Homo sapiens: one gene and its partners. Each later gene encodes a partner of the first gene's protein in a complex. Links are inferred from orthologs where the notes say so. Each region holds a gene or a part of one and is shown in the gene's direction. Other genes may lie near its edges.

Region 1 (7,678 bases):
TGGCAATTGGGGAAAAGAATAGATGGTTTGTACTAGGGCCTCTTGGGTTCTGTGTGTGTGTGTGTGTGTGTGTGTGTGTGTCATGAAAACAGTTACTTTTTAGCTACCAAGCATTTTTTCTCCTTTCAGTAACCCACCTAACAACATTTACTCAGAATTTCAAAGCAAGCTTCAAATCAGTATTGAAAGAAGGAAAAATATAAAGGCATTTAATGGAAGAAAATGTTGGGAATAAAGTATAGGGCTGGCAACACTTACTTTTCTCACTTATTGAGAGTAATTTTACTTGGGAATTTATGAGAGAGAAAGACATTATGATTGCTCCAGGTAACTACTGGCAGAGGAACCATAGTCTTGGGGATAGACAAATGTGGCTGAGTTCATATAGAATGAGGGGATGGGATGTAAATTCTGTCAGCTGTTCCAGCAGTAACCTGTAATGTAGGCTAAAAATACAGATTTTGAGATTTATTTAATCAGAATCCCTGGAGTGTTAATTTTTATATCAAGATCTCATAGTGTTTTATTTGAAGTGACAGGGAGGTCTGTAGATAGCTGGACATGTATGGGACTGGAAGCTTAGGAATCTTTAAGTTCTTCCAGGTTATTCTTATGTTCATTTGTTTATTCTGAAAATAGCATCTAATGTATTTTAAGAAATGGAATAGGCACATAGTATACATTGGGTAACACAACAGATAGGGTCCCCGTGCTTAATTCTTAGTCTTGTGAAGGTGACAAAAATACTTAAAAATATGTGATCCTAAATTAGAATGAGTGTTATGGGAGAAATGACAGCAAATAGTGATGAGAATTAATGGGGAGGGGAATTGTCTAGATGAGAGGGAAAAGGTCTCCTTGAAAAGGGGATGTTAAGTGGGACTGCAGGATGAGAGGGAACCGTCTCTTGTCTATATGAGAAGTGAGGGTTAAACGTTTTCCAGGTAGAGAAAAGGAACACCATGTGCTATGTCTTAGAACCAGGGATATCCAGTCTTTTGGCTTCCCTGGGCCACATTGGAAGAAGAATAATTGTCTTGGGCTACACACCAAATACACTAATGATAGCTGATGAGCTAAAACAAAAAAAAATTGCAAAAGAATCTCATAATGTTTAAGAAAGTTTACGAATTTGTGTTGGGCTACATTCAGAGCTGTCCTAGGCCATGTGGCCCATGGGCTGCAGGTTGGACAAGCTTGCCTTAGAAGGAAAGAGATTGGTCAGGCACGGTGGCTCACGCCTGTAATTCCAGCACTTTGGGAGGCTGAGGTGGGCGGATCATGAGGTCAGGAGATCGAGACCAGCCTGGCTAACACAGTGAAACCCCATCTCTACTAAAAATACAAAAAGTTAGCCGGGCGTGGTGGCAGGCGCCTGTAGTCCCAGCTACTTGGGAGGCTGAGGCAGGAGAATGGTGTGAACCCGGGAGGCGGAGCTTGCAGTGAGCTGAGATAGCGCCACTGCACTTCAGCCTGGGCGACAGAGTGAGACTCTATCTCAAAAAAAAAAAAAAGGGAAAGAGATTGTGGAGATCCAGGTGCTGAAGAGAAGGTCTGCATAAACAGAACTTAGTAATGAGGTGGATGGCCTGGTATGAGGTTGAGGTTAGGTAAGCAGAGCCATAACATGCAGGACTTTCTAGGTTCCTATAAGATAGTTACTACTCATGGAGTTTATTCATGCTTTATTCCAGCTTTGGAGCCATAGATACAGAATACTTTGGTCAGTTTGGAAGGCTAGGTGGGATCCAAATTCTAAACGGTTCCTCAGGGTTATACTAAAGTATTTCTATTATCTTAAAAGGATGCTGAGACACTTTCGATGGTTGTTTATCAATAGCAAAGCATCACAGTGGTGTGTTTAAAATATTAATAATAGCATTGTATAGATTAACAGTTTGAATGACCAAAAGCTAGAAGACCAGACTACTGAGATGTTACAGGCTTTTAGGAATGAAATAGTTTGCTTTTAGAACTCAATAGCAAAGGGCAGATGTCTGAGATGCCTGAAAGAATCATAGAATGTAATAATATAGGAGCTAAGGGAGCAACCAAAAACGGTTTGTGGAGGGGACAACATTGGTACCATGAAGATAAATGGAACCCTCAGAAGGCATCCTTAATTTTTGAACATAATAATTTAAGAAGCTGACTTAAAGTGACTTAAAAGGTCAGTAGGTAGCTGGAAATGTATGATACTAGAATGCAAGAGAGGCAGGCTAGAGATTTGGAAGTTTCCCTCTTAGTATATAGGGGTAAGGGCAGCAGGGAAGGGGAGGTAGAGGTGCCACAGAGTCATCTGTATGGGACTTTTTTTTTTACCCTAGAACTGCTGAATCAGAATGTGTGTGTTTTAAAGTCTCTGTAGGCCATTCTGATGGACATCTGGGGTTAAAATCCATTCTCTTAGAGTTAATAGTTATGTAAAGGGAGGGAATGAAGTCTTAAAGAGGGGAAAGAAGGTAGTCATTTCACAAATACTGAGCATCCTGATCATCAGTCTTACGCAGATCATTCTATTAGTAGCTGGAGCTACTATGAAAAAGGAACCCAACAGAGGTGATCTTTGTCTTGTAGGGAAAGTGGAGTAACTTACACTATGAAGGAGAAGTGCAGGGTACCATAAGAATTACAGCAGATAGACCTCATCTGAGGAAATAAAACAGACCCGAAAGATGAAGGAGACAAGGAAAAGTATCTCTTACTGCATTCAGAAGTGATTTAAGTTGAAGATGGATGAGCGAAGTTAATCTACTATGTGGGCATTGGGCTTCCATTTATACTCCTTTGCCAGAGTAAATGTCCCCCATTTAAGGGTCCTAAAGGATGGAAGATTGTAAACCTTGGAACACATGTTTTGTAGTCAGTGAATTGTATAAAGTCCCTGACAGTAAGTGTTTTCATGCCGTCTTTCTGGATTGTTCTTACCCCAGGAATTTACCTAGCTTCTTTAGGTCTTTAGTCAGATGTCACCTTCACAGTGAGGTGACCTAATTATCTATTTAAAATCGCAGCCCCACTCCATTATTTTTCTCCATAGCCCTTTAATATCATCTGACATACTGTATGGTTTTAGTTTATTGTATATTTTTCTGCCTCTTCCAACTAGATCATAAATTCTGAGGGTAGGAACTTCTGAATATTTTTGTTCACTGGTCTATCTGCAGCTCAGAACAGGACCTGGTACTGAATAAATATTTTTGAAATGATTGAATGGATGAAAAGAAATGAGTAATAAGAATATTACCTAAGGGGGACAGTGGAGATAACAAAGGCTTTTTCGGCTTAGGAAAGGAACAGTAGCTATTTGAGAGTTTGTCACTAGTGAGGTGAACTGGCAAAGTGAAGGAAACTGAGCAACATTCTAGAAAATGAGAGGAAATCAAATACTTAGGTGAAAGGAAGTAAACTCTGGAAATACAGAAGGACACCTCCTAAGGCTAGAACAGATATTTAGGATTGATAGGCACTTCTAGCTAATGACTAGGGCCTTATATCCTTTTTAATTTTCTAGGTGGAATGCAAGCTTTAGGACTTCACCTGACAGATCCAAGTCAACGTCTTGTTCAGAACTGTCTTTGGACTCTCAGGAATCTTTCAGATGCTGCAACTAAACAGGTAAATTCTGAGTAAACTGGTGCCATGGGAATAGAGTCAAGATGAGTATGTGCTTGTACTGACCATCTGTTTTTATCTCCATAGGAAGGGATGGAAGGTCTCCTTGGGACTCTTGTTCAGCTTCTGGGTTCAGATGATATAAATGTGGTCACCTGTGCAGCTGGAATTCTTTCTAACCTCACTTGCAATAATTATAAGAACAAGATGATGGTCTGCCAAGTGGGTGGTATAGAGGCTCTTGTGCGTACTGTCCTTCGGGCTGGTGACAGGGAAGACATCACTGAGCCTGCCATCTGTGCTCTTCGTCATCTGACCAGCCGACACCAAGAAGCAGAGATGGCCCAGAATGCAGTTCGCCTTCACTATGGACTACCAGTTGTGGTTAAGCTCTTACACCCACCATCCCACTGGCCTCTGATAAAGGTAAATTGTCAAAGTAGAATTTACCTTTGTTGCAGAATTGAAAATGAAGCATCTCTAGCTGTTGGATGGCTGTCTAAGCATAGTGATCAATAAGTAGGAATTGTATTCCTTAGTAAGTAGGAAGTATGGCTGCGATAGGGGTAAGATTCTGAAATGTTTGTGTAGTCAGAACTACTTTTAGTTGATACCAATAGATTTAGTGTGGTGGGAATTTTAGGGTAAGAAAATGATTTTGTTGAGTTGTATGCCAGTTCTTCCTTCTGTTTTTCAGGCTACTGTTGGATTGATTCGAAATCTTGCCCTTTGTCCCGCAAATCATGCACCTTTGCGTGAGCAGGGTGCCATTCCACGACTAGTTCAGTTGCTTGTTCGTGCACATCAGGATACCCAGCGCCGTACGTCCATGGGTGGGACACAGCAGCAATTTGTGGTAGGTAAATTCTTACAGTGATACCTGGCTATCTAAAAGGAATGCATAAATCCAAAGGATCCTGAACTTCTTTCTTTGGTCATTGGTTCCCCCCATCCGTCTTCCTGAAGAGCTAATGACAAAGTAAATAAATAAATAATTACACATTTCTATGGCTGCAGAGAAAATAAGGCATAGTGTGGCCCCAGTGATATTTCCTTGGACACGTCCTTCACATGGTCAGTCTTACAAAGGTTGGGTTAGGTGTTTCATAAAGTGTTCTCATTTAATTTACACAAAGGCCCACTTCCTTAGGAAGAGGTAGAGTCATAATTTGAGATCAAATCTGTGTAATTTCAGAGCCTCTTACCCTTGCCTCATCATGCATTTTGACTATAAATATTTAGCAGTCCGTTTTATTATCTTTTCTGTGAGTTAAACTTTTTTCATGGACCTAAGAATATTCAGAAATAAGTAGTAGCATTTCTGTACTCTTAACCACAAAAATCTCAACCTGAAGCTTTGATACAAAGTTTGTGTCTTAAAAGTAGCTTCATTAAAAGTATAGTCTAATGACATTTCTGATTTCTCAGACTTTAAGACCTTATTAGGTTAGTTTAGAAAACAAAGATGGAGCCTACCAGAACAGATGTTAGGAATCTCATTTTGCTGGTTGCTTTGTGTATGTACTCATATTGGGGCTTTGGCTTTCTTCATTTATTACTGTTGGTATTGGCCCATCTCCATGAGGTGACTTAATAGAACGTTGAGGGCACCTTTTATTTTAAATCTCTTTTCTAGGAAGAAGAGAGTTTTTGTGTCCTTGTAAGAATCAAGTTATTTATAAAAGCTGCTAAATGTAGCAGAATAATAACCCCTTTTAAAACTCAAATCCAGAAACAGGAGAAACAGATGGTACTTACATATTGCAAAAGCTATCTTCCTTCTATACATGAGGCTGTCAGCTGAATAGTCTTGGAAGAGTGAGGAGTGAATTTTTCTGCTGGCAACTCGGTTAGTTTTAGCAGTTGGTGCTAAAACTTGGCAAAGTTTTCACCAAATACATGGAAGATATACAAAAATAGAGGGGGCATGTAAAAGAAAAACGTTGACATAGTCTGAGCATTACTTTCTCATCTTCTCTTTTTATATACCTTTTACCCAGAATGATTGGTGCCCTTACTGTAGGAAAGTTGTCTTTGGGATTCAGCGCTGTATGGAAGCTCTGTTGCACTGTGTATGGGGGAGGGGTGCTGCTTTGAATTAGTGCTGCCAGGAGGCCTCTTTTCAGTGACATTCAAGTTAATGGAATCCTTCTTCCTTCCTGAACTAATTGCAAGTTACGGGGAACTTCGGGTATATAATGTAAATAATTACAGTCTAATAATTGTTCCTCAAACTTTACAGAGGAGAATGCCCTGTTTGTTAACCATGTTTCTTTTGGCAGGAGGGGGTCCGCATGGAAGAAATAGTTGAAGGTTGTACCGGAGCCCTTCACATCCTAGCTCGGGATGTTCACAACCGAATTGTTATCAGAGGACTAAATACCATTCCATTGTTTGTGCAGGTATGTTTTAAGTGAAGTGTTCTAGGTTTTATGTCCATAAAATTTCCAGATTGTAATGACTAATAACATTTCAGAAAATTAGGGACCATAATAGGGTTACCAACATTTAATTTTATGAAAATTCCCTACATTTTTTGGTCAGTAAGAGAAACATTGAGACTTGAGAAGAGGGAGGAGATTTCACATTTCACTTTTATGGGTGCCTAGAGGGGAGAGCTGACCTGGGCTGCCAGAGGCAGGGCATAGACCCCCAACCAATTCTGGGTTTTCCAAATCTTAGATCAGTTAGAGCTGCCTCTGAAGAAAGGGTTTATAGCTAAAAAATATTATGGAAATCCAGTGCTCCAGAGCATTAAACACCCCAAGACATAAAATTCAGAGAATATTATTTACTACAGTGTGAATGCCTCTTGCACTCTGAATTGGGAATGTTTGCACCACAGTGGGGGGCTTGCCATGTTTTAGCTTTAGATTTAATTAGGTTTTGTTTGTGTTTTCTCCTTAGCTGCTTTATTCTCCCATTGAAAACATCCAAAGAGTAGCTGCAGGGGTCCTCTGTGAACTTGCTCAGGACAAGGAAGCTGCAGAAGCTATTGAAGCTGAGGGAGCCACAGCTCCTCTGACAGAGTTACTTCACTCTAGGAATGAAGGTGTGGGTAAGTAAAAAGGAACCAAAGCCTTTAGCAGATGTGTACATTGAAGTCTCAGTTTTTCCTCAAGGGCCTTTTTCTCCTTGTCTCTTAGCGACATATGCAGCTGCTGTTTTGTTCCGAATGTCTGAGGACAAGCCACAAGATTACAAGAAACGGCTTTCAGTTGAGCTGACCAGCTCTCTCTTCAGAACAGAGCCAATGGCTTGGAATGAGGTAGGGAAATGTGAGCAGTTATTTATCTGGTAGTTTCCTAGAGCAGGTATGGCAGCTTGTTCTTTCCTCTCAAAACACTTAGTACACATTCATTTGCATTGATGTTTCCCTGGCTTGAGTATTTCTTCTTTATGCTGTCTAGCAACTGCTCTGAGGAAGAACTATAATACAAGCTTTAAAGAGTCTGTTCAGAATCATTACAAATAAGTTGTGTTATTTAAAATTATAATTCATAAGGGAGAAAGATGAAAAATGTTACCAGATTAAAGAAGATTTTTCAAAAGGATGTAAGGAAAGAGGCAGTGTTAAACACTGTTAAGAGGACAGTTTATCAGTATTTTTTACTAAACTTTAATAAAACTTTTCTATTTGAATTTCTGCTATGAATTTTTCTTCAGCATTTGTCCTCAGTACAGGTGGTTCCTTGAAACATTGTTTCTAATAAAACTAGAACATCCTGATATTTTATCCATTCTATAGAGATCATTGATGGTACACAGACATACAGTGGATTATGTTTGTTGAGTGAATGGAAAGAGAGATTGTTAGGTTTACAACGATGCAGCTCTTGAGACCGGAGTTTAAGATCAGCCTGGGCAACATAGTGAAACCCCATCTTTAGCTGGGCATGGAGATGGATGCCTATAGTCCTAGCTACTGGGGAGACGGGGGCAGGAGGATTGCTTGAACCCAGGAGTTAACAGACTGCACTCAGTGACAGAGCCAGACTCCAACACAAAAAAAAAAAAAAAAAAAAAGCAAATTACCAGTGAGTAGTGTGTTACTTGGGTTTTT
Region 2 (7,678 bases), on another chromosome or scaffold:
ACAGAATGGTGTTCTTTACCCGTTGAATCCAGTTTGAGCGGGCTGGGGGCGGGGGTAGGGTGCACCTAACCCCGCGTAAAAGATTTGTGACTACTGTGTGCTGGGAAAAGGAGGTCAAAGGGAGGACACACGTCCAGAGAACCGAATAACATCCAAAACACAGGCTTTTTGCCAAACTCTCCTATTTGTAGAGCAGCCTCTCTTTCTACCCATTTTGCTAGTCCTGCCTTAGTCCATAAATAATTTTGCCACCCACTTCATATTCTCCACAATTTTCTGGTCCGGGTGAAGGACACTGCGTTCGAATCCGAGAGCACTCGGGTGTTAAGTGGGCATGAGGAGGCCTGAGGGTGAAGGAGTAATACCACTGATTTGCACGTGTTTGAGGCTGTCTGGGTGGATGGTGATTACCAAAACTGATATCAACTGGGCTACCTTTTAGATGTCTATAACCTGACTCTCTAATTTTCCTCCCTTTAACCACAGAATCGTTCTACTTTTGTAAGCCTGCACTCAGCCAGCCATAGTAGGTTATAAGCTCGAGTGGAGCTTCTGCTGTAACTGCGCTCAGGGCAGTTGCCTTAAGACCGCATCTGAGTGGTTGGCTTGTTTATGTTTAAATGCCATTTTCAGTTGCAAAATGATATTTCAGCCTTCTTTTAATCAGATCTGATTGAAGTGAACAGTGGTTGAAGAGGCTATCGAAACCATCAACCCCATTAACTCCTACTCCTGTAATATTAGGCATCCAAGGAGCCTTGATATGGTTTAATAAACAGCAGTCAGAACAGCATGTGGATCATTCCCAAATTTAACTATATTTTTATTGGTTTTGTTATTATTTATACGTTTTTGGTCCCGGGTGGATAATAATCACTCAAAAATACATGTTGACAAGAAAAGGATTATGCAGTACTAAACACTAGCGTATGTCTCTCAGAGTATAAAACAGAGTTGCCCCTAAACCTCTTCCTTTGAATTACCAGCGCACACACATTTGTACCATTATTGTCACAAACTCTAAGGTGATTTTCTTTCTTTTGGGTGTGGGGATTCATGATGTTAGGTGGCCAGACAAGCACAAACCTCTCAGGAGCCCTACCACGACAAGGCCAGAGAACACCCCGATGACGGTAAGACACCCATTCTACTTCTTCTGACTTTAGCAGATAAGGGGTGCAATTTGTATAAATAGGTGTGTTTTGTTACTTTTGAGTTCAAGAAACTGGGACTAGGTCAGACTATGCCCACTATTTTAATGGTAAAGAAAACGCAGGAAACTTATGGCTTACCTCTAATATATATTACATAATTTAAAAACTGTTTTTGAATGAGTTAGGGACCCTTGGATTTCAGGTGGGTTCCAGATTCTTTGGGAAGAGGGAATGTCTACAATGAGTTTTTCTCTTCCTCATCTTACCTTAAATCCTAATTAGCTTAGATCTTTAGTATTTTTAATATATTATTAAGAAGAACGACAGTATATATCGATTTATTTTCCAACCAGAATAGTTTTGAGTGGATTTTCACTTGCAAAATTGCTGTTTCTTGTTCCTTATTACAGTGAAAAGGCCGGCAGTAAATGAGCAGAGCAGAATCTAACTTGTAAAAATATAAAACTTATAATTAGGAATGTGCATATCAGAAATGATACCCTTTCTCCCTATTTCTGATTCTTGCTAAAAACTTTAAAATTACATACATATGTATTTAGACTTAAGGAGAATTCTTTGTGACTTTAAAAGAATCAAGTAACCTTAGGGATTTCTTGTCAGCCTATCTGTTTTCCATTAATTACTTAACAATTGGCCTAACTGAAATGAAGTGTTTTTACATACAATATGTCAACCAGGAGCAGGGAAGAGAATTATATATTAGGCTTCTTCCTCAGCTACAAGATAGTTACACAGATTAACAAGAAGAAATACACATATCGAACAGAAATTTTTTGGCAAAATGATCTAAGTGTAGCACATAAAATTAAGCCTCCCAGAGTTAATCCTTTATAAATTTAGATAGTTGCCTATATACTAGATAACAACTCTTTCAGTAGAATCTAGAAATTTTTCTAGAAATCTGCAAGCACAGGTAGAATCTTTGAGTTTGTCTACAAGGCAAAACATAATTTCAAGTGTATAAATCTCTGTGTTTGTGTGTAGCTAGATGGCCTAATATATTTATATTACATTTTTAAAGTTGTGTGTGTTCTGTATATTTTAGTCCAGTTTGTTAGTATTAGAACAAATTAAGTTAGATGGATAACACTTATTTTTGTAAAAACATCAGTCAGTAGTGGAAGAACTGTTTGAACTACATGTTTTTAAAACATCTGGTTTGCTGCTAAGCTATTTAAGAGAATAAATACTGTCAATCTAAAATAGAGCATAATAATCCAGTTACAGTATTTTGTAAACAAATCTTTTATGTAGGGTCTGATTTATCTTAGAACTATTAGATTTTCAGATGAAAAATACAGTAATATAAAAGGGAAGTCAGTGCATCATTGATTGTTCTTTGGATCTTCCCAGGAAAGCATCCAGATGGAGGCCTCTACAACAAGGGACCCTCCTACTCGAGTTATTCCGGGTACATAATGATGCCAAATATGAATAACGACCCATACATGTCAAATGGATCTCTTTCTCCACCCATCCCGAGAACAGTAAGTAACATGCTGATGTTGCAAATTATGTTCAGAAGTGCAAATTGATTTGTATTTTGGCAGAATGTTTATTTTTCCAAACTCATTGGTAATGCTTTCATTATATATAACTAGTCGTTGCTAAATAAGAGCTGTTATGAGGAATGGCCACCTTAAAACAGTGCTACCTTTGATGTCTTGCCTTTGAAATTTTAGCTTTTGGCTTATTGATTAAAATAAATATGTAACAGATCATAAGTTATAAAATCAAGTGAAGTTACATCAACAAATCCCTGATTTTATGAGTATTGTGCATTCTATGCTGATGAGAGGAAAAAATTGATTTACTTTTTCAGCTAAGTAAGGACTGTATAGCTTTTAATGCCCACAAGCTTTCTAGAATCAGAGCTACTTTAGCTCATTTGGAGCTGAATGTTTGTTATGTTACTTTGGCTTTTCAAATGGTGTCTTGTTTTATTGTATCGGCCAATGTTTCCTTAGGATCGGTTTGGCGGGGATGAGTTATTTTTGCTTTATTGTCAATTGTTGAGAAAGCATCACTCAAAGATAACCCTAATGAAAGTTGTTCCTTTTTTTTTTAATCTTGTGGTTTAGTTAACTTTTAAAATTCTAAAAATGCAGTGGTATTATAACTGCATTATGCAAATGCATAACATTATAAAGAATTTCAGGTTTATTTGATGATATTTCTCTTAGGAAGTGGAAACCTCATTTAAGTGAGAAAATACCTAAATGGTAACTTGTGTAGTATGTAGATGTAAAATGTGCTGGTGATGGAGTTCTCTCTTAGAATTAGCCCACCAGCGTTGGTGACGGACTTTTTACTGACCCATCAATATATTTACCTTCTCTCCAGCCCCACTCTCCCTTTATCACCTAACCCCCAATGAAAAACACATGTCTATGGGTCTCGGGGATTAGGGTTCCAGTCTCACTGACAGCCCTGGAGGTCAAATCTCAGATTGTAAAATGGAACCTATAGTGTTTGACTTACTTGCCCAGTGTTTCTACCAACTGAAAAAAATCAGTCACAAACATCTGGGAAGAGTAACGTTGTTAATACCTTAGTGAACAAAATCTGGGAGTGAGAAGATTCACTAGCAGAGAATAGTGGCTCAAAATCAACAGTTATCAACAAGAGTATTTGTGGTTATCATTACACATAATCTTCAGTTGTTGAAATGATACTTATATCAAATATGATCACTTTGAGCACTGCAATTTAGATGTTATTGTAATTATTTTCCAATAAATTGCTAAAGGATATTTGATCTCTCAGCTAAGGAATAAGCTTTTTCTAATTTTTATATAGTAGTTAAAGTGGAGATCTTGGGGTTCTAATCTTGAGGGAGATCTTGTGATGGTTGCTGTAAGAAATAGGTATTTCATATTTTATTTTAAGGCTTTTCAAGTATTTAATGATAAAGATGTCTGTGTGATGAGGATGAATCTCCTACTTAAAAAGTAATTTAAAAAAGCAAAAATAGTTTAATATTTAGAGGCCCCTCAAATAAATGCTTGAGTTTTAAAAGTTGTAGGAGACTTTAAATTTTTGAACAAAACATACAAATATATAGATATCTCTTTAATATTTGGGCAGGTTTTTTTGCTGTTTTTGGAGGGGGTGGAGAAGGGAAGGAGAATATGTTTTAGATAAGGAATATTTGAAGATTCCTGTTAAATCATTTTCAGAATAACAAATAATCTTTCCAAATCAAAGTAGTGTTGGTGACAATAGAAAATAGCCACAAAACAGCCTTACGTTTTTCAGCTGTGAGTATACAGCATTTGTGGAATTTATTTCTTAAAAAGATCAGCTACTTCTCCTTTCAAAATGGTAATTTTAAAAAATCAATATAATGAAAATTTATTGGTATTTATAAGCAATCCCTAAGAATATTGAAAATTAAGCTGATCTTCCTCTTTATGCCAGCATTCTGCCTTGTGTTTCCACAGTCTTTTCTCCCAATCTACCAGTATACTAGTCATTTTGAAATTTTGATAGAAAATATCTTTTGATAGAAGGTATTTATTGTTAGTGTATGTATTAAAATTTTGAGGTCAGTGAATCAAACAGTCATTCATTGTTTAGGAAAGATTTGTGGCCAGAATAAATGTTGGTCTGGGTAAAGTGTAGGAAAGAGGTGTGGTCAGGAAACAGTTACCTTACCCTGTTATCTGTTGCTTTGCTTTATTCTGTTAAATATTAGGATGTATTTATTTTAGGCATGTTTTCTTGAGATATTCTGCAGTTTGCACAATTCCAGAAGCTTTTCAGCTGTAACCACAAGACTATGTAAATTTTTTTTTTAGGGTCCAACCGAAGTGAGTTACAATCTTTGGTTTTTAATACCTAACAGCTGTTTTTAATGTGTCGGAGATCAAAAACACTAACCGGAAGACAGCCTCTCTTCTTCACCCCTAACCACACTTCTGCCTTCTTGCTCTTTAACTCTGTCCTTAGCAGGGCTGAGTGTTTGTGTCACTAACATCCACAGTGATAGATTTTCATCTAGGGTGTCAGGAGCATGGTGACCATTTGTGTTTGGGCTTAGGATGGGAGCATCCCCTTGGCATCCTGCTTCTTGAATTTCCATTACAAACAATTGCTTGTTTACTGCATCTGCTTCCCAAAAGTGTTAGGACTGGAAAAACACCTGGGGTGGGGGAGGGACCTGACCACTCCTTCCCTAAACAGTCTTCTGTTTGTATCTAACTGCAGACAATCCAGAGGATACCAGCTATGGCCAACTGGCATGCAGAGAAATGTTTCTGCTGGAATCTAATTATAAAAAGTGCATATGCTTTTGCTTATTTTTTAGACAAATGCTACTGTGTGTATCCTGGAACAGATTTTACCTATGACCAATATACAGTATTACCTGTTCAGGAGCACCACTTTCACCTACTCAGCTTTTTTTCTTCTCAAGGGGAATTTTAATTGGCAAATTACATCCTTCTAGAACTGGAATCCTTAGGGGTGTGAATGTGTCTATACCAGAAATCTTATGAATGGGTCTCTCACAGAATTTTAAATAAGAATTCTTAGTTCAGATAAATTGGGTCTAAGAAGAAAGCACCTATCATGACATATTTGGTGTCAGCGTGAGTTCTTAGGGCATAGTAAACTTTGGCTTGAGTTGGTCTTCTTCACAGAGAGTGAAGAGAAGATGCAGAAGCCTGTTAAATATTTTAGAGCCAGGACCCTGGAGAGTTTATTAAAAGCATACTCCCAAACCTTTCGTTCTCTGAACTTTATTTATGAAAATCCCTGTAGGCCAATGGTAAAGTATTAAAAGAAAAAAATAGTTCTTTACATCCCTAGTTTGGCTCTGGCAGTTGTGTGCCTGAACACCGTGTGAATGGTGAGCTTGGCCAGCTTTAATGTAGTGAAAGTTCCCACTGGCCTAATGCACTGTGGTTATTCATCTTAGGCGTCAATCTTCCATTTGTCCCGCATGCAACCCAAATGTTTAACACCTTAGAAAAGAAACATCTCATTTCTCTTCAGATGCTTGGGGAGGGAAAAGCAACACAGTGCAGGAAGCTGCAGCAAACGTTGCAGCTCAGTCACATCAAACCACAATAACACCTGGTCAGTGTAGCGCTGCAAACTTCATTGTTTTTGGTTCTTTGTGATCTTTCTAAGAGTCAATTTTTAGGTGGGAAAGGAAAGATATGGGTGTTCTCATTTCAGCTATCTTTTAAAATGTTTATTTTTTTAAAGTAGAAATTGCTATGAAAATGTTCCATGAGTTCTTTTCTAATTACCTTGTATAACTTAGTTCTGTTGTGACTTTTACCTTAAGGGAATCAACACTTTGGTTTCTATTAAACAGAATTATACCTATTATAACTTTGTCTTACCTACCCTGCATATTTGTACTTGCTTATAAACAGCTAAAATCTGATTTTGTCATTGTTCACATCTGGAATTAAGGAACTAAGTTGGACTTGTCTAATCAGTAAGCTTCTGAATGTACCACTGTACGTGACATTGTTGGATACCTTTGAAAATAATCACATAAATAATATTCAAGGATAGATGGAGACTAAGGCTTATATCTCATGCAAGATTTTTAAGGTAGAGTATCTTTTCACTTTATTGCAAGAAGCTATTGAATTTGACTTAACCTATAAATAATTTTCACTTTTCTATTTTAAGTTGTGCACTTTTTGAAGCTAAACACATTGAGTTTTCCCCTTCAAGTGGAGAATAAGTTTTAGAAAGTGTATTATTCTAACTCAAATGTATATATAGATGTCAGGAGAATGTGTGGGAAAATTCCTCAGAGCCCCCAAAGTTTCCTGTTTGATCCCTCCTTCATGGCATTGCTACAATTTGGGACAGGATCATAGTCAGAATAATTGGAAGCGCTTGCCATTCCCCCATCAAATACCTTATGGCCAGTTTGCTTATTTAAGTGTGCCAGGAAGCCATACTACATGTAACCCTTGCAGAGCTAATATTGCATTTACATGCCTGGTTCTTACTCAGATAGTTTTTTTGAAATGACCCTAGTAGTTTCTTCTTCATTGATAAAGACATGAGAACAACCCAAAAGATAGTCTTAAAAAAAAAAGACCACACACTAAAAAAAAGACCATTGAGCCAATCCGCAAAAATCTTGCTTTTGAAGTATTTTTTCCACTCCCATACAGGTCTTAGATTTGCTCTCATCAACCTCATTATTTTGATCGAGTCTTCCCTGTGGTCCGAGACCCTTATGTGATTTAACAGAGCAGAGGTAGGGTCTCACAAATGGGACTCTCTGGACTTGAATTTGTAGACTCACAAGCACTTGCTATAATATCAATTTTGTAGCGGATGAGTTTTTTTTTTTTAATGTTCTTTAGACAGAACCATTTGGGTTTATGTGATTGAATTTTTTTTTGAGCAATCAAAACACTTCATTTTTGACTCCTTTTGTTCCTCATTTATGTATCATAGACATGACTGGAATTTTATAAAGCTGATTTCCTTTTGATTTTGGTAAAAGACTTGGAATTTAAAGA
Region 3 (7,678 bases), on another chromosome or scaffold:
TAAAAGCAGCACACTCAGGTTATAACTAGATTGTTCCCTTAAAGTTAACTAACTCTGGGACACTGGCCAGACTCTTGGTTTCTGGTCTTGGTTTACTTCTTTCTCCCAAGTGGGATGATTCTATTGAATAATATGCAGTACTAACTTTAGAAGCTTTTTATACTTACCTATATCAAGAAAAGAGCCATATCTGTGTGGTAGGAAATGTTATACATAAAACAAATATTTATTGACCACTCCCACAGTGCCCAATATTATGCTTTGATTCATATTAAATTTCCATAATTCTTCAAATTAACTGCATTTGCAGAATATTTTATGCACTCAGTATAATATTGCATATTATCCACAGAAGGTTATGTCTGCATACTTAGGGGTACATGATACACAGTGCAAACACTGTATTGAGTCTGTAATGTGAGTCTTGCTATCTGGTCCCCTGAACACTCTGAGTCTGATTTTATTTCAGTGATAACCTCCAGCAAGCTCTGTGCTCATAAGGATCTCTGAAAGTAGACGTTTCATCAGCGGAAAGTGTGATAGCCATTATGTCACCCTAACCTCCAGCGAGCTTTATTTAGAATGCCAGCCACACAAGCCCATGTTCTGATTCTCATAGTTGGGGCTTAGGCTGCCAGTTTCTTCTATGAAGCTAAACTCTAGAGCCTCCCTTCTTTCCATGCCCGAGTCCATCTCCAAAACAGTGCTTCTCAGATTCCTCTTTTCTGGCCTGGATCCACAGGTAGTGACCAGAGTTAACAGAGTTCTTGGGCCAGGCACAGTGTCTCAAACTGGTAATCCCAATACTTTGGGAGACTGAGGATGGAGGATCACTTGGGCCCAGGAGATCCAGACCAGCCTAGGCAACATAGTGAGACCCAGTCTCTACAAAAAATAAAAAAATAAATAATTAGCTGGGTGTGGGTGTGGTGGCATGTGCCTGTAGTCCTAGTGACTAGGGCTTGGGGGTTGAGGTAGGAAGATCACTTGAGCCAGGGAGGTTGAGGATGCTGTGATTGTGCCATTGAACTCCAGCCTGGGCAACAAAGTGAGACCCTATCTCAAAAAAACAAAACAAAACAAAACAAAACAAAAAAAGGATTTCTTTTTCTTTAACACCTTTTTTTTTTTTTTTTTTTTTTTTGAGGCAGAGTTTCACTCTTGTTGCCCAAGCTGGAGTGCAATGGCATGATCTTGGCTCACTGCAGCCTCAGCCTTCTGGGTTCAAGAGATTCTCCTGCTTCAGCCTCCCAGGCAGCTGGGATTACAGGTGCACGCCACCACGCCTGGCTAATTTTTTGTATTTTTAGTAGAAATGGGGTTTCACCATGTTAGCCAGGCTGGTCCCGAAATCCTGACCTCAGGTGATCCACCCACCTCAGCCTCCCAAAGTGCTGGGATTACAAATGTGAGCCACCACACCTGGCATCTTTAACACCTCTTCTAACAAACCAAGAGAGATTTATAGAGGAAGGGAGAACAGAGGCTTGTTAATGCTTCTCTCCTTTACTTGACCCCTCTACCAGACACAATGTCTAGGATTATCTTGGATTCAGCCTTGAGCATAAGTTGAGCTAGAGAAGGGCACATTGTCAGACTTCCACCTACAGGCCCAACCCAATCCCCACCCCCAGGGATGCACTAGGCAGGCAAGACAACTTCACTCCGCAGCTCTAGAGTCTACCTTAGGATAGAACTAGTTCTTTGAGTTGCACTTCCTCACGCTTCACCTTATTGGAACAGACTTCTTGGAAAAATCCAGTTGGCTTCAAGGAACTTCAGGAGGGCATTGTGCTCTGGGGAGGCCCTGGGGAAGTGTTGAAATGTGACCAATATGATCTTGAGAGATCAAGCTTGAGAAAACCATGTGAACTGGAACTGACCAGGCAAGCTGATAAAGGTTGTCTCTTCTTTAGTCTTTTGGGAAGCTGTTATGTATGTTTTTGTGTGGTTGATAAGTAAGAAAAGATATTTGGAGTGTAACTTTTAAACACCAAATAACCTGAATGCAGATGACCATGAGCACTTATATGAGCAGTTTTATCTGGTGATAATGTAATTGTCCCCAAGGACTTTGTCAAGCCCTGCAAGACAATCAAGTTAGCAAGCACATCCCACTGGAAGGTGATCCTAGAATGGTTAGTGATTCCCTTTTTACTTTCCTTACAGAATGATGAGTTTGAGTGAAGCTAAGGGGAAAGACAAAGGGGAACTGATATATATATATATATCCAGCGTAATATATTTCTTTCCTGGCACTGTCTCATTTAACTATAAAGTTTACTTTGTTAACCCAATTTTACTGATTAAAAAATGGAATCAGAGGTCAAGCAATTTACTCAGCTTGTCAAGAGAATGAACTGTAAATAGAACCCAAGAAATATTCTGAAATACATACTCTTTCTCCAAAGTGGTAACCACTTGTTCTTGTTGATATAAAGGAATTATGATTTAATACAATGTTGGTCTATGCAGACTTTCCTCCAATGGACATTTCGAGCTTAAGAAACATATTTGTAAGTGGCTTTTTAATCTTCATTTCCATTCCACGGTAGAAACCATATTTGGATCCTTCTAGAATTCAGAAGGGTGGCACAGGGAGTGGTGTATGGAAAGCAGAGTGGAAATCACATCTGGGAGGACTGAGGTCTGAGTGGGGTGGGACAAAGGCACTTCTGGTCCCCTACTCTGGAGTTTCCTGGAAAGGATCTCTGGAGTTTGGATGAAGTTTAGCTTGTGAATTTGTGGTGTATGGTAACAACTCGCAGGGTTACCAACAGATGGTGAGAAGGAACTGAGAGGAAATTCAGAGCATGTACTTGTTATAGAGTCAGTGAGTATGAGGAGGGCAGGGAAATCACTCAAACTGAGTGACTGAATTAGATAGCATAAACAAACATACTGTTGTACCATGAGAGGAGGGGATAGGGAAAGACAATTTAGGTGTCAATTAAAAAAAAAAGCACTTTTGACAAACCCAGCTGTGCCTCTTGCAGTGAGATATGCTAGTCCCACACCCATGCTAGCATTTTTCACGGTAAGTGCTGGATTCCTTGCTCAGGGTTTGGATGCCTGCAGCCTCTGCTTCCCGGCCTTCTGCAAGCTCCACCTGCTCCAGCGGCCTCTACAGGAATGGAAAGAAAATTGGTCGGAATCCACTGCTGGGTCCTGGAATCAACTTCCCAGTTTCCAGACAAGAAACTCTGGAGAAAACAAGTGAATCTCTCTCAAGCCTTGGCACACACTGTACACCATCTCGTAATCGCGAAAGTTATCACCATGTTGGAAAAGCCCACGCCCTTCTAATTGTGCAACCTCTGTAACTGCCCAGACCATAACACTTTCCCTAGTTCCACGCCCCATGCTTGAGTGTGACGGTACCACTGTTAAGTCTTGCCTTTCCAAGCTCCCACTTTCTTTGCTGACCAAGTGAGACCCAAATTGCTGGACTCCGCACCTCTGCGGTCCCGGCACTCTTTGACCTTAAGAATCAGAAGCTCAGGCAGGGGCTTTTCTGAAGGAAGAAGTTTGGTTGGATCCATCCCCTCGCTGCAAAAGCCGAGGAATTCTGAAGCAATGCAGGATGTTTCCCCTTCCATCAAGAAGTTTCCAGTATCGCCGGATACATTTAAATGGCAGCCTAGAATAATCTCGTGCTAAGGATTTTGTTCCTGACCCAGGTTGAAGCGGAGGAGAGGGTGTAAAGGATGCAACTGCAAGTGTTCAGCTAGTTTCACAAGGTGCTTTGTGGCCTACTAGCGCCGGGATCGTCGTTCTGTTGGCCCCGAGGCTGGACAGAATTGATTCCAATGGATGGAGTCCCAATAGTTTTGAACTGGAACTGGCTCAAATTTCCATTTCAATTACAGAGAGGAAGAGATAGATTAGACCACCTACCCGAGATTATTTCCCCTGCCCCACTCCTTTCTTAAGACCGGATCTCCCTGTTACATTCTTCTAAGGGCACCGACTATACCCTGGCGGGGCACTCCAGGACCCCTGGGTTGGGACAACGTGCTGTAAAGAAAATAAGTGAAAAGGTTCTTCAGTGAACTCTTTTTATACAAAGAGCCGTAGATTCCGATATCCAGGCCAAACTCTCCAAAAAGCCCTCCTTTCCTCTGGGGCAAGGGTGGGAGGTTGCCCGGGGGGGTGGGTGGGGGGTAGGTTGGATTACCCAGATAATTGCTTCGGCTTTCGTTTTCCTCCGCGATAAAAACCGCGCCACGCCAGATCGAGATACTCTCATAGTGATTGTGAATCAATCGCCATCCTGCTCTAGGGGCTGATGTTGATGTCTTAAGTAGTTATTCACACGTGCAGCAGAAAGGCTTTTTTTTTTTTTTTTTTTTTTTTTTTTTTTAAACAAGGCACGACTGCTCACCTATTCAGGTTTGCTTTTTTAAAGCTTCGATCAACACGACGCTCCCTGGTAATTCCTATGGCTGTACTGAAATTTAACCCGTCTGTTTCTAATACAAAGCGCTCGGGATGAGGGCGGGTGGAGCCTACGGGCGTGGGCGGGTAGCCCAGCCCTCTGAGCCAGGGAATGAAACTGGAGTTCTGGCTAAACTTTTCAGAGAAAGGCAAAAGCAGCTTCTGATGGGTTTTTCGGCTGGGAGGGGCGGAAAAATTAGGCAGACCCGGAGCTCCCGTAGGCTGAAAAACTTGCTCCTCTTCCCCCTCGGGCTATCCTGGCCTAGTAATGGAGATCTGAAAAAAATCTAGACTTCTTTCGGGGTCTAAAAGGTAGATATGTGGGACGAAAAAAGTAATTGTCCTGGTTTCTTAAAAAGCACCAAAAAGTGGGAATGGAAGAGAAGACGGGAGAAATTGTTTCGAAGGAGGAAGGTATTGCAAGTTTTGTGCAAGTTTGGGTGGGTCATCTACCCAGGCGCGCGGGGAAAGATGTGTCTGCCACACCTTTTGCGAGCCCAGGAAACTTGAACCGCTCCTGAAAATCCTGATATTTTTTCCCGCTGCAGCCCGCACGGGTCAAGCGCGCGGGGGCTGACCAACACTTTCCAGGTCAGGTCGAGTTGATTGCTCCCAGCTCACGCTCCGAAATGCGGTGCTGAACCACGGGAAGGAGGGGGTGGGGAGGAAGGCAGGCAGTTGCATCCTCGCGAGTGGGGAGTGCGAGGCCTCCTCAGCTCCAGCCAGCTGGGTGAATGGGGCGCGCACGGCCCCGTAACGCCGAGCGTGGATAAAATATGCTAGGACTGCGCTTCTCCGGCTCATCAAGGCTGCGGGAGCCTCCCCGAGCCATCATCCTTCGTAATTGCAACCGTCAATCAACACTTTAAGACAAAGTCAGAACCGGGAAGGGCGAGCCCTGGAGACCTGTCTCGTCGGAAAGAAGGAGGTGGAGGGGAGGTGGGGGAAAAGGAGAGAAGTTTGCCAGAAGTTGGCAGAGGGAGTGCAAAGAAATTGAGAACGCGCAAGGTAGTTGAGCAGAGCTGTCCCCCGGTCTCACCACAGACTCCCAGGCCTCCCGGGTTCTAGTCTCTGGTCTCCGCCACCAGTTACAATTCCCGCAGCGGTAAGTACGGGGTGGGTTCCTAAGTGTGCTTACACTAAGAGGTACAGTGGCAGTTGCTAAGATGTCCCCGGCGGAGGATGAGATGCGTCTGTCCACCCGCGGTAGGTGTATTTATGGGTCAGTGCAGACCACCGCTGGCGCCGGCGTTTAGACCACACAGACCCGGTTCCACCTACTTACATCTCAACTGCTTTCCCTTCCCGCAGCCACTTGGCTGTCTTCATATTGTGGCCTCGGGAACCCAGAACCATTCTCAAATAACCCATCTTAGACACCGCAAACTCGGGTTCCTCCTCCCACAGCTTCCTTTCGGAGAGGGCTTTCTGGGGGACGCCCAGACCCGTCCAAGGTCACTGAGCTAGCGGGTCCCCGGCTTCAACAGGGGTCCCTTGCCCAGCAGAATTGAAGGGTCAAAGGACCAGAGTGAGTGCTCAGAGGGAGGAGGGAGTTCTGAGGGAGAAGAAAGGGTGCACTTGGAGGGCAGTAATGAGCTTGACGCTGGAAGCCTGGTGCCGCCGCCCCTGCCTCTGCCTCTTGGATGGAGACCCAGCTGCTTCCTTAAATCCCTTGCAGAGCTACCTGAGGAAGGTTTGTGTGCCCTCGGGTCTCTGGCAAGAATCAATTCCAGTGGAAGATTCCTTGCCTTGTCCACTGCTGGCGGGGATCTTGACATCCTTCCAGGGGATCTGAAATAGGGCTGCCCCCAGGGAGCGTTTCCCATCGTCGAGTTAAAGGCCTGGAGCGCCGAGGGCTTAGGCTTCTGAGCTAGGAGTTCCCTTGGTTCTTAGGAAAGGTCGTTTTCTCTCGCTCGAGACTTTCTGCTCTTTCAGTCCCCCTCCATTTCGCTGCTACGCTTAGGTTTTGGCCTGGACTAGACTTTCAAAGCAAAGGAAAGGGCTTCCCTCCGTGATACAAGCTCCTGCGTTAATTTTTTAAAGCATGGATTTTTAAAACCCAGTCCCCAGCCACCGTTCCCTCCCGCACCCCTCCCATTTTGTGAGGATTTTTCTTTCCTGGAAAGTCCACCTGTGGAGAGATAAATGAGTGCCAGCTGGCCTTTTGCCACCACCACTCTCCATCTTTCGGGGATGTGGTGGGAGGGTAGACTGGCATGGACCAAGAAGTCGCTAGTGTGGCCTAAGCAAGTCCCTTCTGGCCCTGGCAGCTGGCGTTATGAGCATGGTCACAAAGCTTGTCTCACTAGGTCAGCCTCAGCCTCAGGTTCAGCCTCAAGCCAAGGCAGGGTTTCTTGATACACTACAATTTCAAGGTCCTGTCAGACCCTCTTTCAACTTCTTTCAACTCTCCTAACTTCCCCCGGCTTCACCAAGCAGAGGTGAAATCACCACCACACACTAGGGGTTGGAGGTTTCCTCTTAGGACCAAGCGTTTGGAGTCCTGCATCCTTGCCATGCTAGGGTCTGGGAAAGGTGCTGTATCATAAGTGCACCCATAAATTCTTCGCATTGCTGTGGGAGGAGGTTCTTCTTAATTAAGGCTTTGAAATAAACTGATTTTCAAAGTTCACGAGCAAAGCAGGGCAACCACTGCAGTGAGCCCTGAAACTGACTCCCTTTCTTTATTTTCTTAGTTCTCAGTGATACTTAAAACAACTAGGAATACTGAAATGTAGTGACAGTGATACTTGATACTATCACAAAAATTGGAGCTTTTGGCAACTTCAGCCCACTTCTCCATACAAACTAATGGACAGGCCTTCATAAGTTTAAATGTTTCCACGAAACCTGAAGTTGCTACTAAAGCTGAAGTCTAAATAACTTTGATCCTGAATATATATTGAAGAGCAAAATGACAAATCAATTAAGAGTCAGTAGTACCTGAATTGCCAGGTGTGGGTGGGTGATGAACAACCCATTTTATGTACATTATGCACTGCAAAGATTGGAATAATTTCCAAGTCACCAAATACCGGATTGGGCAGTTTCAATGTGTAATCTCTATACCATTCAAATAGAATAAACTTAGATCTTTTGAGATTCAAATTCACCCCCTTGTGGGTGGACTCTGATAATTACTTCGTTGCACAGCAGATTCTAAATATGAGGCATTTCGCATGCAGTCAGGAGGCTGGAAAGAATGTTTTTCATCTTGTTGGGAGGAGATCTGAAAACTTTG
Region 4 (8,475 bases), on another chromosome or scaffold:
CAACATGGTGAAATCCCGTCTCTACTAAAATACAAAAATTAGCCATGCGTAATGGTGTGTTCCTGTAATCCCAGCCACGCAGGAGGCTGAGGCAGGATAATCCAACCAGGGAGGCAGAGGTTGCAGTGAGCAGAGATCGTGCCACTGCACTCCACTCCAGCCTGGGCAACAGAGCAAGACTCCATCTCAAAAAAGAAGAAGAAGAAGGGACTACCTTAACCTTTCTCTGCCAATTCTAAACTTAACTTTATTTGTCCTCATACGCTCCTCCTCCTGTCTCTCAGAGGAGGCTAATCCCTCCATCTGTTCCTAGATCCCTTTCTGTCCTGTCTTCTCAGGAACTGTTGCCATCATTATCCTCTTTCTTTCATCCTTAGCCTTTCTCTAATGGATCCTTTCTATCAGCATTTAAATATGCTCAAGTATCTCACTTCATTTTATTCCCCAAGTTTAAATTTTGGAAAATTTCAAACCCTCAGAAAAGTTGCAAGAAGAGTACAACGAATTCCTACAACCCTTCACTTAGATCCATCAATTTTCCTTTTTTTTTTTTTGAGACAGAGTCTCTCTTTGTCACCCAGGCTGGAGTGCAGTGGTGCAATCTCGGCTCACTGCAACCTCCATCTCCCGGGTTCAAGGGGTTCTCCTGCCTCAGCCTTCCATGTAGCTGGGATTAGAGGCACACACCACCATGCCTGGCTAATTTTTTGTATTTTTAATAGAGACACCATTTCACCTTGTTGGCTAGGCTGGTCTGGAACTCTTGACCTCAAGTGATCTGCCCACCTTGGCCTCCCAAAGTACTGGGATTATAAATGTGAGCCACCACACCCAGTCAGATCCATCAATTCTTAACATTTTGCCACGTTCGCTTTAGTTGTCTTTCTCCCTCCCTTCCTCCTTCCCTCTTTCTCTCTCACTCCACATAGACACCTTCCTTATTTCCTAAACCAATTGAGAGTTAGCTGCAGGTATCATAACATTTCACCCTAAATACTTCAGCATGTATCATCTAAGACATTCTCTGATTTTCTTATTCTCACAGTTATCACACTCAGAAAACTTAACATTGATAAAATACTGTTATCTAATACACAGCCCATATTCAGTTTTTCCCTGACTGTTTCACTAATGTCTTTATTTATTTAATTTTATTTTTTTAAGAGCTGGGCATGGGGCATGGTGGCTCACGCCTGTAATCCCAGCATTTTGGGAAGCCGAGGCGAGTGGATCACTTGAGGTCAGGAGTTCAAGACCAGCCTCGCCATCATGGTGAAACCCTGTCTCTACTAAAAATACAGAAATTAGGCTGGGCGCGGTGGCTCACGCCTGTAATCCCAGCACTTTGGGAGGCTGAGGCGGGTGGATCATGAGGTCAGGAGATAGAGATCATCCTGGCTAACACAGAGAAACCCCGTCTCTACTAAATATACAAAAAATTAGCCAGGCGAGGTGGCAGGTGCCTGTAGTCCCAGCTACTTGGGAGGCTGAGGCAGGAGAATGGCGTGAACCTGGGAGGCAGAGCTTGCAGTGAGCCGAGATCGCACCACTGTACTCCAGCCTGGGCAACAGAGCGCGACTCAGTCTCAAAAAAGAGAGAGAGAGACAAGGTCTTGCCAGGTTGCCAACCTGGTCTTGAACTTCTGGGCTCAAGAGATCCTCCTGCCTTGGCTTCCCACACCTGTGTGTAAGCCACTGCACCTGGCCCTATTAATGCCTTTTATAGCTGTTTTCTCTGCTGTGTATCAGTGTCAGTGTATGTGTGTTGTTCCTGTGTCCAATCAGGGATCATTCATTGCATTTAGTTGCCATGCTTCTTCAATTTCCTTTGAACTAAAATCTTCCTTCTTTCAGACAAAACAATGCTTTCCTTAGACTCTCAACTTCTACATCCCACCACTGTGCTAGCTTTTCTCTCCTTCCCTAGATAGCCACGTTTTGTAAAGAAGAGACTCAGCAGTCTTCATATCCTCACCTCCCTCTTCAACAGGCTGCAGTGTGGCATCTGCACCCCCTAACCCCTTCATGATCCTCACTCACCAGACTTTCCTGCTACCTCTCTGGTCACTTCTTGGGCTACTTTGTAGGCTCCTCTTCCTGTGCTCGTCCTATAAATCTTACAGTTCTTTAGGACCCTGTCCTAGTCCTGTTGCTCTTTCCACTGTTTATGCTTTCCCTGGGTGATTTCTTTTCTTTCTTTATTTTATTTATTTATTTTTTTGAGACAGAGTCTTGCTCTGCCACCCAGGCTGGAGTGCAGTGGTGTGATCTCGGCTCACTGCAACCTCCACCTTCTGGGTTCAAGCGATTCTCCTGCATCAGCCTCCTGAGTAACTAGGACTACAGGTGAGCACCACCCCACCCAGCTAATTTTGTATTTTTCATAGAGATGGGGTTTCACCATGTTGGCTAGGCTGGTCTCGAACTCCTGACCTCAGGTAATCCACCTGCCTCAGCCTCCCAAAGTGCTGGGATTTCCAGTGTGAGTCACCATGCCCAGCTCCCTGGATGATTTCATTCTTTTCGGGGGAAGAAGCGGGAGTGGAGTTTCATTTACCACCTACATGCTGGAATCCCTATTTGTAGCCCAGGTCTTTCCCTCCAACTTCAGTTTCAAATCTCCAATGGCCTCCTCAACATCTGAATCCACTTAGAAATCTCACAGGCACCTTGAAGCAATATGTCCAAAAAGAGAACTGATTATCCTCCTACCACTTCTACTGTGCTTTCTGTCAAAAAAAAGAAAAAAATACATATATATGGCATCCCTCATTCATTACCTGAGCCAGATACATAGAAGTCATCTTTGACACATCCTTTTGACATCATCCATGACACATCTAATCAATCACCATACTCCACTGATTCTATCTTCTTAGTATCTCTGGAATCCATCTACTTCTTTCTGTTCTCACCACCACATTCAGGCTGCCATCATCTCTCCCAGGAATATTTCAGCAACCTCATAATCCTTTCCCCAAGCTTCCAGCTGTGCTCCATTTTAATCTCTCCTCCACCCTGGACTCTGAGTGATTTTCTGAAAATGCAAATCTGACCATTTTTTAAATTGTTCAGCTAGTTTCTCACAGCTCTCAGGATACAGTCTAAATGACTGAACTTGGCCTATAAGCTGGAGTGAAAGTCAAGGTATTTTATATCTGGTAAGGTACAGGCCCTGATGCCAGTTTAGAAAGCATGTCAGCTGATTTATCTGACCAGTTTATGCCGGCTAAATAATGGCTTGCCTATAGAGCCCCATACTCTTCTGCAGTCTCATCTAGGGCCACTCTTCCTCTAAAGTCCCACTGATCTTGTTTTGGTTCTCAGAATCAATCACCAAAAATGCAGTTACCTTTGCCTGGAATACTCTTTTCCAGTGGCTGCACCATCATCCCACCTTATCTTTTCATTTATTTATTTATTTATTTTTTTTGTAACTCCATCCTGTTACTGCCTTAGTCCTCTGAAAACCTCCAGCTAGTTTTCATACGAATGCGTTTGAAGTCTTCTCCATTTTGCACTTGTGTAGAATTTTTTTAAAAATTCAAGAACAAAACTTTTTATTAACTGAAAGCCTATTATGTATTAAGTATCATGCTGAGTTTTGTGGATATAGGGGCTAGGACAAAGTATCAACAGAGTAAAAGTGTAAGCTCCACGAGGAAATAACTGGGTCTGTCTTGTTCATTAATGAATCCCCATTCCTTTTTCTTTTTGTTTAATTAATTACTTTTATTTTTATTTCAATAGTTTTTGGGGTACAAGTGGTTTTTGGTTATATAGATGAATTATAGTGGTGAAGTCTGATATTTTAGCCACCCAAGTAGTGATGAATCCCTATTTCTTGAGATGATGTCTGCACACGGTTATATGCTTACCATTTGTTGGATGACTGAGTGAATAAGATAGTTTAAAATGGAGATTTTTTCCTATAAGTCAAAAAGTATTTTCCTAGTTCATTTATTTTATAAATTCAGATATTTTGTACAAGGCTGTCACAATCTAACTCACTTTTTTTTTTTTTTTTTTTTAGACAGAGTCTCGTTCTGTTGCCCAGCCTGGAGTGCAGTAGCGTGATCTCGGCTCACTGCAACTTCCGCCTCCCGGGTTCAAGCAATTCTCATGCCTCAGCCTGCCGAGTAGCTTGAATTACAGGCGCGTGCCACCAGGCCCGACTAATTTTTGTATTTTTAGTAGAGACGGGGGTTTCTCCATGTTGGCCAGGCTCGTCTCGAACTCCTGACCTCAGGTGATCCACCCGCCTTAGCCTCCCACAGTGCTGGGATTACAAGCGTCAGTCACCGCGCCTGGCCCTAAATCACTTTTGTTGTTGTTGTTGTTGTTATACTGTTCTTTTTCATTGCTAAGTAATATTCCACTGTGCTACATATGGAATATGCTACAATTTGTTCATACAACCACCTGCTGAGGGGCATTTGGGTGTGTGTCAGTTTTTTAGGCTGTATAACCAATTATCACAAACATAGCAGCTTAAAACAACCTAAATCACTTTTAACCAAACCCTAGAGTTTTCTCCTCCTAAGGTAGACCCAATTTCCAAAATAAACCCATATTGTACCTTTTCAGGCCAAAGAAAATATTTATATGCTTTATTTGCTGGAGGCCATTATATTCCACCGTTGAAGGACTTTTGTTAAGTACCTGTTTGACCCTTAGTGCAGGGCTTACATCCCACAGTTAGCAATAGCAAGTTATGTGCTTTTTGAGCTCTAAACACTGAGAATTTCTTGAACCGAGTTCTATTCGGCCCTGACTTGCTGTGGGGGAGAAAAGATTCCTCGGGAGAAGTGTGGGTGGCGATGGCTTAGGAGGACCTTGAAATTCCGCATTTGTCTGTGAGCTGCTGCCAGGTGCCCATTGGCCCAGCTACTCTGGGTCGCAAACCTGCAGATGCCAGATACATGAAATTTGGGGACGTTCAGCTTCCTAAAACCACAGTTAGGCAGGTCCTAGGACCCGTGATTCTTGCCACAGTTTTTCTTAGTATTTGGGCTACAAGTGAGGCATTGGCCGCCATCTTGATATCAAATGCCAGGCAAGCCGCTACTGGCGTCGCTCGGTAACCACGGAGACACCCGTGCCCCTCCCGTTTCTCATCCTTAGAGGCTGTAAACTACAATTCCCATCAGCCGATTTCCTCTGCGTAATGGCAACTTATCTAAATCTGGCTTGTGGGCAACCGCAACGCTGCCGCAGTGAACTGTGGGAGTTGCGGTTCACGGCGTAGCCTCAGTTTTTTTCCTGGGGGAAGTTCCAGAACTACAAATCCCGTGAGCCAGTGGGCTTTCGCCTGCGCACGGAGAAGCCGATTCTCCTTGGCCCCTCAGCCTGCGCCTGAGAGGTAAGAGAGGGCGGGGGGAAGGAAGAGGAGGCGGGATCCGGGCGCTGCGTTGGCTGCGGCCTGGCACCAAAGGGGCGGCCCCGGCGGAGAGCGGACCCAGTGGCCTCGGCGATTATGGACCCGGCCGAGGCGGTGCTGCAAGAGAAGGCACTCAAGTTTATGGTGAGGAGACGGTGGAGGCCGGGGAACGGTGGAGGCGCTGGCGTTGGCGGCGTCGCTGGCCTGGGCCGCCCGCCCACTGCGGGACCGGGCAGCGGGACCCTGGGCCGAGGCTGGCGGCGGAGCGGCTGGAGGGATGGGATGGGAGCTCCAGAAAGGAGGCTGGGGGTTGCGGAGCGGACCCAGGGGTGGGGGCAGCGGCTCCGCCATCTTGTGGATGAGAGGCCAAGTGACAGCGGGAGCTTAATCGAGGAGGGGGCTCCAGGCGGCGCGCGGGGCCCTGGAGGGAAAGGGGCGTGGGGACTGTTACTGAAAAGCGGAGGAAGCTCTCTGGAGAAACGCCGTGAGGCCGCTGGCGGGGCCTTCCTGGTGTCAGGGTTACCGGTAAGGCCCGGGAGAGGAGGTGCATTCACGACTGGGGAAGGGAGCGCGGGATAGAGTGAAGACAGATACGGTGGGTAGAGGGGAACGGGCAGGGCTGGATGCAGATGGATTTAAGGGTGGAGGAGGGAACGCTAGGGCTGGTGAGAGGCTTATAGTTTTGTAGAATGAGGAGGGAGGATAGCCTTTGCCTTGAGGGTGGAATCCCAGCTTGGCCAAACTACTGTTGACAAACTCTGGAAGGGAAGAGGCCTCACTAAAGAAGATAAGGACTGGGAATGAGGACCTAGGGCTATAATGACAGTCCCTGGGAGGGGAAAAGGGTGTTGACTGTAAGCTAGAATTACAAATGTCAGGGAGGGGTACATAACGCTACTTTGAAAGGAGAAGCTAAATACTGTAATAAGGACAAGGTGATGAAAAGTAAGAGCAGATTGTCAGGGAAACATGGGTACAGGAGATTGGGGCAAAATGAGTATCTAATAGGGTAAGCAAAACAAAATTTAAAGGTAAATTGTGGGACGGTAAAATGTGGAGGCCAGGTGCTTTGTATCATTTTCTGGGAAAGGAAAGGCCGTGGAGATGAGAGTTGCAAAGACCCATAAGAAGTGATGAGATCAGTTGAGAAATTTAGGAGATAAAAAGGGTGGAGGTTGGTAGAGGGAAGTAAGTCAGGGATAAGTCAGGATTTGTGGTTACCCGTCAGTTTTAGGTTGAAGCACAGTGTGAGCAAAGATTGGATTTTGTGGGTGTGCTTAAACCCCTTGGAACATATTTCTTTAACTTTGTATCACGCTTTTCTTTTTGCTGTGCTTATCTTTGGCAAACTCGTATAGTCTGATATTTGATGCTTTTAATCTGATGCTTTTTGTATTTCCTAGGTGTAAAACCAGACTTTGTGGTTACAACTAAAGAATGATGGAATGCATAGATTTTAAGCTTAACAGGTGGCCTTAGGGACATTGATATTATTTGCAGTCCAGTCTTGCTTTTTCAGAAGTTATTGTGACTTGTCACTCCAAATCTTACTCCTTTGCTTAAAAAAATAGCTATTTTGTATCTTTGCCTAAAATACCGTAACAAATCCAGATAAACATGGATACTAACAAAATTGAATTTTAGACTTTAAACTGCCCCATTTATAAGAATACTTTTTTGGAATCTAGTCAAATTCACTAAAACTTTATCTTGCATTAGTGTTTTCGAAAACACCTAATTAAAATTCAGGGGTATCATTAACAAAATTTCATTGAGCCTGAAGAAGGTTCTTGGATTTCTGCCCAACATTAAAATTCTAAATATGAAGAAGAGACCTTGAACTTTTACTGGACTTTAGAAGTAAGTGAAAGTTACTACACTTAAGTTAGAAAACTGTTACTGCTTATTTTTGTTTTCCTACTTAGAGGGTTGACTCCTTTTTTTCTTCTTTTGAGATGGAGTCTTGCTTTGTCGCCCAGGCTGGAGTGCAGTGGTGCAGCCTCCGCCTCCTGGGTTCAAGCGATTCTCCTGCCTCAGCCTCCCGAGTAGCTAGAACTACAGGTGTGGGCCACCACGCCCATCTAATTTTTTATTTTTAGTAGAGTCGGGGTTTCACTATGTTGGCCAGGATGGTCTCATCTCCTGACCTCGTGATCCGCCCACCTTGGCCTCCCAAAGTGCTGGGATTTCAGGTGTGAGCCACAGCGCCCAGCAGAGGGTTGACTCTTAATCCTAATCCTGACATTTGTGTCAGATTTATGGAATAATGTGATTTACAGATCATAAAGAGACATTATGAGATCATCCTTTTTACTCTCAGTTAGACTTCAGCCTAGTAACATTCTCAGCTACTTAATCTCTGCTTTGTACCAGTGAGTTATGTTTTGATAATGGCCTCCCTGGTTGAGTTAAAGTGGACTTGGAGATGACCATATAGTAGTTGCAGCTTTTAGAGCACCACACATTATTAAATCTTGAATCAGTTTTCATAGGGAGAAGCCAATTTTTTCTTTTAATTTTAGTTACTTTCATTATTGACCTTGCCTGCTGTTTTGGCTGCCATTTGAGAAAAGGTCAACTAGAAGAGGGTCACCAGAATGACACCTTAATAAAAGAAACAGAGAATGGAGAGTTTGAGATTGGGTATTCTCTTTCAGTGCAGTAACAGTCTTATGAATCTGAGTAAGTCACAACTTCCCTTTGGTGCCATTTACCCTGCTATAACATGTCTGTTTATTCAGAGTCAGTTTTAAGAAAGGAAGATAGGCCGGGTGCGGTGGCTCATGCCTGTAATCCAGGACTTTGGGAGGCCGAGGCAGGCGGATCACGAGGTCAGGAGATCGAGACCATCCTGGCTAACATGGTGAAACTCCGTCTCTCTAAAAATACAAAAAATTAGGCGGGTGTGGCAGCGTGCGCCTGTAGTCCCAGCTACTCGGGAGGCTGAGGCAGGAGAATGGCGTGAACCCGGGAGGTGGAGCTTGCAGTGAGCCAAGATCGCGCCACTGCACTCCAGCCTGGGCGACAGAGCAAGACTCCGTCTCAAAAAAACAAACAAACAAAAAAGGAAGATATTGGCCAGGCGTGGTGGCTCA

Evidence for each region.
Region 2: the proteins of CTNNB1 (region 1) and LEF1 are in contact, whole or in part, in a crystal structure (PDB 3OUX), measured with the Mus musculus proteins. The link is inferred for Homo sapiens from one-to-one orthologs. Residues at the interface, in NP_001159374.1 of Mus musculus: Lys180, His219, Ser250, Phe253, Tyr254, Thr257, His260, Asn261, Leu264, Asn290, Lys292, Phe293, Ala295, Ile296, Asp299, Lys335, Trp338, Thr339, Val349, Gln375, Arg376, Gln379, Trp383, Arg386, Asn387, Ser389, Asp390, Thr393, Asp413, Ile414; in NP_034833.2 of Mus musculus: Gly11, Asp12, Pro13, Glu14, Leu15, Cys16, Ala17, Thr18, Asp19, Glu20, Met21, Ile22, Pro23, Phe24, Lys25, Asp26, Gln31, Lys32, Glu33, Lys34, Ile35, Phe36, Ala37, Ile39, Glu45, Asp47, Leu48, Asp50, Ile51, Lys52.
Region 3: the proteins of CTNNB1 (region 1) and NR5A2 are in contact, whole or in part, in a crystal structure (PDB 3TX7), measured with the Homo sapiens proteins. Residues at the interface, in NP_001091679.1 of Homo sapiens: Tyr306, Gly307, Asn308, Gln309, Lys312, Lys345, Val346, Val349, Gln379, Trp383, Arg386, Asn387, Asn415, Thr418, Cys419, Gln559, Glu562, Gly563; in NP_995582.1 of Homo sapiens: Ser300, Ile301, Pro302, Glu475, Gln476, Ala479, Leu482, Asp483, Tyr484, Met486, Cys487, Asn488, Tyr489, Pro490, Gln491, Gln492, Thr493, Leu501, Arg507.
Region 4: the proteins of CTNNB1 (region 1) and BTRC are in contact, whole or in part, in a crystal structure (PDB 1P22), measured with the Homo sapiens proteins. Residues at the interface, in NP_001091679.1 of Homo sapiens: Tyr30, Leu31, Asp32, Ser33, Gly34, Ile35, His36, Ser37, Gly38, Ala39, Thr40; in NP_378663.1 of Homo sapiens: Tyr307, Arg321, Ser345, Leu347, Ser361, Ala385, Leu387, Lys401, Arg403, Arg426, Ala427, Ala428, Asn430, Gly444, Arg467, Gly468, Ala470, Ser484, Leu508, Arg510, Tyr524, Arg557, Phe559.

What each region holds. Positions count from the first base shown.
Region 1 is NC_000003.12:41,229,827-41,237,504, forward strand, and holds part of CTNNB1 (catenin beta-1), read left to right. Parts: intron 1-3,514; coding exon 3,515-3,618; intron 3,619-3,702; coding exon 3,703-4,041; intron 4,042-4,312; coding exon 4,313-4,471; intron 4,472-5,897; coding exon 5,898-6,017; intron 6,018-6,522; coding exon 6,523-6,673; intron 6,674-6,761; coding exon 6,762-6,883; intron 6,884-7,678. UniProt on the Homo sapiens protein: Key downstream component of the canonical Wnt signaling pathway.
Region 2 is NC_000004.12:108,158,552-108,166,229, reverse strand, and holds part of LEF1 (lymphoid enhancer-binding factor 1), read left to right. Parts: intron 1-1,066; coding exon 1,067-1,133; intron 1,134-2,528; coding exon 2,529-2,662; intron 2,663-7,678. UniProt on the Homo sapiens protein: Transcription factor that binds DNA in a sequence-specific manner. Participates in the Wnt signaling pathway. Activates transcription of target genes in the presence of CTNNB1 and EP300.
Region 3 is NC_000001.11:200,030,452-200,038,129, forward strand, and holds part of NR5A2 (nuclear receptor subfamily 5 group A member 2), read left to right. Parts: intron 1-4,578; exon of another isoform or gene 4,579-4,811; coding exon of another isoform or gene 4,812-4,851; intron 4,852-6,573; exon of another isoform or gene 6,574-7,678. UniProt on the Homo sapiens protein: Orphan nuclear receptor that binds DNA as a monomer to the 5'-TCAAGGCCA-3' sequence and controls expression of target genes: regulates key biological processes, such as early embryonic development, cholesterol and bile acid synthesis pathways, as well as liver and pancreas morphogenesis.
Region 4 is NC_000010.11:101,348,705-101,357,179, forward strand, and holds the start of BTRC (F-box/WD repeat-containing protein 1A), read left to right. Parts: upstream 1-5,460; 5' UTR 5,461-5,476; coding exon 5,477-5,524; coding exon of another isoform or gene 5,525-5,905; intron 5,906-8,475. UniProt on the Homo sapiens protein: Substrate recognition component of a SCF (SKP1-CUL1-F-box protein) E3 ubiquitin-protein ligase complex which mediates the ubiquitination and subsequent proteasomal degradation of target proteins. Recognizes and binds to phosphorylated target proteins.